Linked DNA regions of Homo sapiens. The protein of the gene in region 1 purifies or fractionates together with the protein of each later gene. This does not show direct contact. Each region holds a gene or a part of one and is shown on either strand. Other genes may lie near its edges.

Evidence for each region.
Region 2: the proteins of PRDM11 (region 1) and ACBD5 purify together in Homo sapiens (affinity purification with mass spectrometry; one large-scale study listed by BioGRID and IntAct). This does not show direct contact.

The regions. Positions count from the first base shown.
Region 1 is NC_000011.10:45,229,370-45,234,413, reverse strand, and holds part of PRDM11 (PR domain-containing protein 11), read right to left. Parts: 3' UTR 1-5,044.
Region 2 is NC_000010.11:27,234,035-27,238,590, reverse strand, and holds part of ACBD5 (acyl-CoA-binding domain-containing protein 5), read left to right. Parts: intron 1-3,378; coding exon 3,379-3,499; intron 3,500-4,556. UniProt on the Homo sapiens protein: Acyl-CoA binding protein which acts as the peroxisome receptor for pexophagy but is dispensable for aggrephagy and nonselective autophagy. Binds medium- and long-chain acyl-CoA esters.

The DNA of each region.
Region 1 (5,044 bases):
GGTGGGCCTGCTGGAGACTGAGGTACTTGTAGGATGGTGGGGAAGAGCAAGACAGGGGCAGAGGAGGCTCAGGATGGGAGCAAATGCCCCTTCGGACCCCAAAAGCAGAAGGCTGGTCTGGAGAGAGGGAGCATGCAGCTGCCCTTGCTCCATCATCTGGTGCCTGGTCAGGCCCTCTCTCCTACCTCCAGGAGGAAAAAAACAGAGAGAGGAAACTGCGAGCAAATGGGCTTCTGGGTCCCGTCAGGGCTGCACAAGCCCTCTGTCATGCTGCCAGCTTGCACCAGTGCCCCCGCGTGGCCCCCAGACATCCCCGCCCGGCCCGGGCTAGGAGCTGGTGATAAACCCAGGGAGGGGCCCTCCCCAACGAAAGTGGATGAGCTTGGGGTATCCCAGCTCAGCCTCTGCCTCAAGTCACAGAATGCGAACAGTGTATGTGAACTAAACCTGCCTGTTACGGCGGGAGTGGGGTAGGGGCCACGGGGCCTCTGTGAGGGAGGGGGAACAGCGTTGTCCTGAGTACAGCCAGCAGCAGCTGCTGCGCGGAGCGGGCTGGGCCAAAGCCCTGCTTCTGGACTGGAGTAGCCATTGAATTTATGAGTGTGCAGATATGTCTCTCCCACCGTTTCCTGCTAGCTGATGCCCCCTGCCCTGGCCAGAAAGCCTGTGGATGGTGGGCAGCGCTGCCTGGCGATGCTCATGCTGCCCACATCCTCTCCTCCTGACAGTGGTTGAGCAAGTGAGGGAGGCCAGGACGGCTGCACTTCAGGGGCTTGGCCTCTAGGGGCAGCAGAAGCATCTAACAGGGCAGGGGCGGTATCTTTCCTGGACCAGCTCTTGATCCAGTTTGGACCTTTCCTATTGCCACTGACGCTGCTCAGTCCTGGTGCGGGAGGGTTTTGAAGGAGTTTGTGCAGTGGTCCCTCCACCAGGAGTCAGAGACCACGTCCTACTGCCAAGCAGCAGTGACCGCCTAAGCGTGGGCTGTGGGGGTGGGGAGAGGTAGGGGGCACCTCAGCTGGAGCTCAGGGGGTATCTCCTTCCAACCTCAGACCAAGCCTGTGGAAAAGGAGAGAAAGTGCATGGAGCGAGCCGGGACCCAGCCACTCTCCTCTCCAACACTCCGGGTAGGAGGCCCCCTTGCCAGCCAACCCTGCCTGCTGGCCTTCCCCGGCTCCCTCTCCGAAGGCCGTGCTCCCTTCCCCTTTGCACAGCACAGCGCCAGGCTTCCCACTGCTCTCCCAGCTCTATAGACTCTATTTTTATATCTATTTAAAACATAGAAATGTATAAATATATAGGATATTATTTATAGATATATAGACGTGATTTACTCTCTTACTCTGTGTGTATACGTACTGTATATGTCCATATATACAACATATATGCTGTAGCATCTGTATTCTACACTGCACATACCCCTGCTTCCATGCACTCTCTCCTAGGGAGACTGGATTGCATAGGTATTTCCAGGGTGATACCACTTGAGGGGGTGGGGGGGAAGGGAGTGCCAGATGGAAGTGGAGGGGCGTACCATTTTCCTCCCAAAAGGGCACTTTTTCTCCCTCTGGCTAACATGCAAACATTGCCTGAAAGGCTCCTTAAAAATATCACAGCACCATCCACTCAGCTCAAGCACCCTAACCAACAGATGGCAAGAGAAGGGCCCCCACCAAGTGGGAGATGGGTTTCCCTCCAAGCAGGAGAAGGGCCGTGCCAGTCTCTTGGGTCCTCCTGAGGACTGAGGAAGAGGCCAGACTAGAACCCATGACACGGCACCACCTCCCCAGAAGACTGGTGTCTGGAATGGGCACACCACTGCCCTCTGAAAACCCCTTTCTTGTCTGAGGAGGACTGGCCTGCCTGTTTCAGCTGTTTCAGCCTGGCCTGGCTAGATCTGCCTCTTGAAGCAGGGAGGGGGCACAAGTCCAATGCCTTCTGCCAAAATTGGACCTATGGGCCAAGAAAAAGCATGAATTCGACTTGGAAATCAACCCAGACTGAAAGCCAAAAGCAGACCTAGGTCTAGAACTCCCATTCCTAGAGGGGGTAGAAGGAAAATGAAAGGGGGGATCCAGAAGAGGGAAGTTATACTTCAACCCCTCAGGCCACCTCCTGGGTCCCATCAGGCTCCAGGTGATCAAGTAACATGGCACCAGCCCCTCAGTGCCGGCTGGGCCAGGGCTGTGGGCCCACAGTAGGGTCTCAGCTATTGTTTCCAGCCTTCTGCATGCTTTCCCCCCTGTTGGCACCACCTCCAAATGAATGGAAAACATTTAAACATTACCTTAAGTAATTACAAGGTACTTTTCCTAAATTAAAGGGTTGGCATAAGCAACTCAAGGGGAGGACCACCTCAGCAAAACAACTCAACTTGGAAACATGTGGCAGAGGCTGAGGTCAGAGACCCCCAAGTGCCATAGATTCCAGGGCCCAGCACTGAACCTTGCCATCCAGGGACCCTGGAACTTGAGCCTGCTCTCAGTCCCAAGTGAGGATGGGGAAATGAGGATGTGCCTAGCATCACAAGGTGTCATAGGCCAGTCATTAGAAAAATTAAATTAAATAAGGCTGCTGTTTCTGATGCCTGGACTCTCATATTCAACCAGGCAGGCAAAACTTGGGGATTCTGACATGGCAAGAGTTACAGACTTGACTGCGCTGTCCTCATGTTTCACAGATACTAGATGGCAGTGGATTTTTTCTTTGTCCTCCATGAAGGAAAAGCAGATCATATTAATCATAAGGGCTCTGGCTCCCAGGCTCTGCCAGGTATCACCTTGGCACAGTTGGCCACAAACCTGGGCCTCAAGGTTGATCTCACTTCCCACCAACCCTACGAGCCAAAGAAAGTCACTAATCAGCCAGCCCAGTTATGCCAAGTCTCAGCCCCAGAGACACACTTCATTCTAAGCCTGTAGTCATCACTCCTAAGCCAGAGGCTGAGTTAAAGGGCTCTGTCTTGTCTGAAGTAACAACATTTGGGATCCACCAACTGCTTTTCCACAGTTCTGTATACACATCAAGGGGAGATTAGGTTAGCCAAGCATATGCTCCCTGGGCTAGACCCTGAGTGTCCCATCAGTCCAAGTCCTTCTCAAGCAAGCAGAAGAGTGGGAAATGCCTATGACAGAAATCATGGGTAATCACATGCAGAATTCACAGGACAGAAGCACTGGGCCTCCCAGGGAGCATCCAAGCTGAGAAGAGACCCCGTGTAAATTGCAGTGGTGTATCACCCAAATTATTCCCTGTCCCATGGCAGTGTGGCCTACAGAGTGTCTGCCACAGCCCTGGCATGGCTAAATTCAGCAGAAGCCACAAGCACCCAGAGTTTTAGGGATGCCCTAACCTAACTTCAAGACCACCTGAGAGGTTAGCTTTTCCGAGGTCTGGTGGCCAGCTCAGGAAGTGACCCCTGCAGCTGCATGCTGTGCATAGCAGCTCATTCTGCTAGGCCAGAAGTGGGTCACCTGCTCTCAGCTTTCTCAGGAACTACAGGGTAGGCACTGGCACTGGCCCATAAGCTTTTCCCCTTCTAGCTGAAGATTTTAGCTCATTTTGGCCATGATCTCTTGAGAGGAAAAAGAGTAGCTCCAACTGACCAGGTGCTCAGGAAGACACTGGTTCTCTCTTCCTGGTTTTCAAATGAGCGGGAGCCTTAGCCTGCTCCTCCCTACCCATTACCCAATGTAAGGTGTAAGGCAACTGTTGGCTAGAAGAAAGGATCTCAACCTACTGTTTCTGCCCTCACCAAGCCCTGTCTTGCTAGCCATCTCTGCCCTCAACCCTTCTTAGTCTCTGCAATGTTCAGTGAAAACTCCCCAGACACAGCAGTTTGCGTGTGTGAGGGGAGAGGAAGTCCCAAGGCTGGGGCTGGGCCAGGTGGGACCTGGTGCTTTGCAACAGCATCCCATTTGACCACAGTTAGGTTTTGACCCTGATGGGAGGAGCAGATGGAGGGAGACATCAGTTTAAAGTGGGGAAGTGGAATGGGGCTGGGAATCTCAAAGCCTCAGAAGGAGGCTTTCAGCCTTTCCTTGCTAGTTCCTGCTAACTGTCTTCTTGCTCAGAGGAGGGTAGGGAAGCATGTGTGCAACTGGGGTGGGAGGTGGGGTGGATGTCACCAGGCAGGGGTGCATTGATTTGTTGAAGAAGGCAGCATATGAGGCCTGGCAGTGGGACAGTTGGAGGAACCCATTTTTTTTTGTTTTTTGTTTTTTAACATGCTACATCACTGTTGAAAACAAACAAAAATATTTCAAAAATAATATATAATATATATAATATATTTATATAATGAAAAGCTATTGACTAGCAGCAATGATTCTAAAGTTATCTTAGCACCAAGACCATGGAGGTGAAGGGGAAGGGATTGGTAGGGGATGAAGGGACTGGTGGAACCAAGAAAGGGCTATAACATGTTCAGTGTTGATGACATTTCCACTATGGTTCTCAACGGTGGCATGAGGCCTCAGAGACAACATAAACCAAGAAGGAAGGAAGCCACCACAGTTTTATAATGTCTGAACCAAGCAGGCTGAAGACATTGGGGCCTTGCCTGTGGCCAGATAACACCACCCTCTGCCAACCAAGAGATGAAGCTCTCAGCAGAACTGACCACATGTATATAATTCAGATCTTCCTCCCTCCCCCAAAATGACCTGCATCCACGTGATAGGATCTCTGCATATAAAATATGCATAAATCAGATGTAGGAACATGAACAGAAGTTTTTAACAGCTCACGCACATTTTTTAAAACTCCCTTGCGAGGTATACCGGTAGTTAAATGAATGAAAGAGCATTGATCAGACTCCTCTAGTTTAAACCACTACTTGCCCCAGGGAATAGGCAAGTGGCTATTTCTAAAGCTTATATTGTATATTGTGATTGTGTGTGTGTGTGTGTGTCTGTGTGTGTGTGTGTGTCTGTGTGTGTGTGTGTGTCTGTGTAGGCTGATGCCTTGAGAGTCCTCTCTTCTTTTCTCCATTTCTTTAGGACATCTCTACCCTGTTCAAAAAAGGAAGAGTTTACAGGCAGAG
Region 2 (4,556 bases), on another chromosome or scaffold:
GGACTGAAAGATAAGAAAGAACAAATAAAATATAAAAAAAAGCATGAACTTATTTAGGTATTGATTTTTTAAGTCCCTAATTATTAGTGTTTATAGAAAGGTATGATTCTAAGAGTTTTATGTAAGTAGTATGTTTATACTTTCTTCTAAAGCACACGTTTTTATAGTTTTTTGAAAATTGGTAAAGCTAGACTGATGTCTCTAGGCCACTATGCCTGTTGACATTATGTACCACTTATTAGGAAACCTGTATAAAGTACAGTTTGTATGTACATAACATTTAAGAAAGTATTGCAAAGTTAACATACCCTATCGGCCGGGTGCGGTGGCTCACGCCTGTAATCCCAGCACTGTGGGAGGCCGAGGCAGGCTGATGCTGAGGCGGGCTGATCACGGGGCTGGCGGATCACAAGGTCAGGAGATTGAGACCATCCTGGCTAATACGGTGAAACCCCGTCTCTACTAAAAATACAAAAAATTAGCCAGGCGTGGTCGTGGGCGCCTGTAGTCCCACCTACTCGGGAGGCTGAGGCAGGAGAATGGCGTGAACCCGGGAGGCGGAGCTTGCAGTGAGCCTAGATCACACCCCAGCCTGGGTGACAGAGCCAGACTCCGTCTCCGAAAAAATAAAATAAAATTAAATTAAATTAAATTTAAAAAAAAAGATACCCTATCAGGCCAGGCGTGGTGGCTCACACCTGTAATCCCAGCACTTTGGGAGATCGAGGCAGGCCCTGAGATCAGGAATTCCAGACCAGCCTGGCCAACATGGTGAAACCCCACTTCTACTAAAAATACAAAAATTAGCTGAGTGTAGTGGCGAGTTCCTGTAATCCCAGCTACTCGGGAGGTTGAGGCAGGAAAATCGCTTGAACTCGGGAGGCGGAGGTTGCAGTCAGCTGAGATTGCGCCATTGTACTCCAGCCTGGGTGACAAGAGCCAGACTCCAACTCAAAAAAAAAAAAAAAAGATATCCTATCAAATGGTACTTGTGTTGGACAACATCCAGTATACTGTTATCCCCTGAAACTAAGTTGATATTAATTGAAGCAGAAGTTTGTTATAATGGATTATAAATATTTTTGTAATACTACTTTTAAACCATTTGATTTGCTCTGAATCATTATGCAAAGAGCAAGATCTTGGAGTTTTTTGTTCCTTGTTTCTCAATCCTTATTTAAGGCCTGAAATAGTAATGAATCCTATGACATCTATGTTTGGTATGACCTTAACCTTTTAAAATTAAAATTCTTAGCTAATATTTCAAATACATATGAAGTACATCATGTGTGAGCACCTTGAGGACAGAAATCTTACTTGAGTGTCTTACACACAGACTACACTCAATAAATGTTCTCGGTTTTTGTATTTTTAATATCATTCACCTAAGCCAATAAACATATTTGGTTGACTTACTGAAGATATTTTGAGATTAGACTTTTGATGTTTTAAATTTAGATTTGTGTTATTTAAATAAGTGACCATTTTAAACTGTGGTTTCTCCATTTTTTTCCCTCTGCTTTATAAAGGATTGTATCATTAGAACACTATCTATTAGGTACTCCTAAATGTGCATATATTATACAGATAATTATTATAGTGATTTGAGAATTAATTATGCACTCTCGGCCAAACCTGAAACACTAGTTCTCAGTTTATCTCTGTGGTAATTTCCACAGCACAGCTTTTTTTTTTTTTTTTTTTTTGAGACCAAGTCTTGCTCAGCTGCCCAGGCTGTAGTGCAGTGGTGTGATCTTGGCTCACTGCAACCACCGTCTTCCAGGTTCAAGCAATTCTGTCTCAGCCTCCTGAGTAGCTGGGATTACATGCACCCACCGTCATGCCCGGCTAATTTTTGTATTTTAGTAGAGACGGGGTTTCATCATGTTGGCCAGGCTGGTCTTAAACTCCTGACCTCCGGTGATCCGCCTGCCTCGGCCTCCCAAAGTGCTAGGATTACAGGTGTGAGCCACTGTGCCCGGCCCACAGCTCTTATAAACTGCTAGCTTATGCAATTTACAAATTTTAAAAAATATCTTGTTACAATTGTTATTTTTAAAATTTTGTTATAAAGGTAATATACACTGATGTTTAAAACTTTTTTAAAAACACATAAGTGAAAAGGAAAATAATTTGTATACTTACTATTCAGAGATAGTCTTTAAACATTTTATGTTTATCTTTCTACTGTACTTTTTATGTATATAAATATTTTGCCAAAAGGTATCATATTACATATGTTGTTTTTAAACTTATTTTTCTAAATTTATAGTAGATCATGGAACTTATACCATTATTTATATTTTTCTACAATATAACTTTTTAGGGCTACAGTTATAAATTGTCCTGTTATATTTATATATCATAATTATTTAAACAGCTATTATAAAACATTAACATTCCAATTTTTCAGTTATTGAGAATACTGCAACTTATAGCACTTGCTTATACAATTTGATTTTTTTTTTTTTTTTTTTGAGACAGGGTCTTTCTCTGTCACCGAGGCTGTAGTGCAGTGGTGTGATCACAGCTCACTGCATCCTTGACCTCCCCAGGCTCAGGAGATCCTCTCTGCTTAGGCTCCTGAGTAGCTGGGACTACAGGGTGTGCCATCACACCCAGCTAATTTTTGTTTTTATTTGTAGAGACAGGGTTTTGCTATGTTGCCCAGGCTGGCCTTGAACTCCTGGGGTCAGGTGATCCACCCACCTCAGCCTCACAAAGTGCTGGGATTACAGACATGAGCCACCACAACTGGCCAATTTAAAAATTTTAAACATGAGAAAAACTATAGATATGCTAGAAACATATATGAAGAATTATCCTCAAATTGATGTCTCCAAAATTACAGAGGTAGGAAGTGAGAAATCTATTTTATCTTAGATTAATTCTTTTTCTACCATAGTGTATACTCTTTGGCTTTAGCCCCAAATTCCTTATCTACTGAGAATTTGAAATTTGGCAGAGTATACATATAACTTTTTCACTTACACTAGTCAGTTTTGATTTGTCATAAGCTTTGAATAAAAGTACCTTATTACGATTGCTTAATAATAGTTATTCTATATTTTAGTATGTTTTTAAAGAGACATTTGCAGGTTATTTTGGTTATATCTACAGCATGTCTATTCATGTATTCTTTTATTTATTGAACCATCTTAGGCATTGCTATTAAAGTTTAAAATCTCAGAGTGTTTTGAAATCAAAGAAGCAAGCAACTAACAGAACCATAACTTTTGTTTCTATAAGCTAGAAATAAATCATTATCTAAAGTATTAATGCAATATAAAATCACTATTAGTATAGCTAAGCTAATTTATAACCTGATTATCAGTTGTATTCCCCAGGTGATTTGTATTTAATGTGTGTTTCCAACAGGTTCATTCCAGCCAACAAATGAAATGATGCTTAAATTTTATAGCTTCTATAAGCAGGCAACTGAAGGACCCTGTAAACTTTCAAGGCCTGGATTTTGGGATCCTATTGGAAGATATAAATGGTAATTTTTTGTGTAGAGCTATGCAAGAATTTAAATTTTAATGACATAATTATCATATGGCTATTACTTAAGTGGTTATATATTATTCTGTGCAGAAAGTGTCCTAGGTATTGGGTACAATTTTTATCCTCCAGGTTTTCTTTTTTGTTTGTTTGTTTTTGAGATGGAGTCTCACTCTGTTGCCCAGGCTGGAGTGCAGTGGCAGGATCTCGGCTCACTGCAGCCTCTGCCTCCTGGGTTCAAGTGATTCTCCTGCCTCATCTTCCTGAGTAGGTGGGATTACAGGTGCGCGCCACCACACCCAGCTAATTTTTGTATTTTTAGTAGAGACAGGGTTTCACTATGTTGGCCACGCTGGTCTCGAACTGCTGGGTTCAGGTGGTCCGCCCACCTCGGCCTCCCGAAGTGCTGGGATTACAGGCGTGAGCCACCATGCCCAGCCTTCCCAGGTGCTCTTAGTACAATTTTACACAAATAGGAAAATCTTGGGGAGGAGAGGAAAACAGTAAAACCAAAAGGGATAGGTGCATCAAAGATAAAGAAGCATTATCAGTTAATCTTTACTTTCATGGAGTTTTCCCTTTTTTTTTTTTTTTTTTTAAGGCAAGAGCAACTCCCAACCTAAGTTAAATAAACAAACTTTTAACTGCCTCTTTTGCCTGCAAGAAAAATAATGGCTTTTCCTTGTTTGTACTGAGCCTTGAAGATAATAAATAACTAGGAATATGACTCAGGTACTGCCATGCTAACTTTTTATCTAAGCTGTCACTTCTGACCTACTGTAATTGAATAGAAATTTGATCTTTTATATACTTAAAAGAATTCTAAACTAAAAAGTATACTTAAATGAATTATAAACTATAAACTAAAAGAATTATAGATACAGGTACCTGTACTCATCCGTGCTGTTTTCCCAGTTGACTAACAGTTGATACTCTAATACAATTGAAGCCTTCACAAATGTCTGAGAAAAGTCAATTTTAGACTGTACGTTATGAACAGAATATGCTAATTGGTGAAGCATGTTTTATTTATTTATTTATTTTTGAGATGGAGT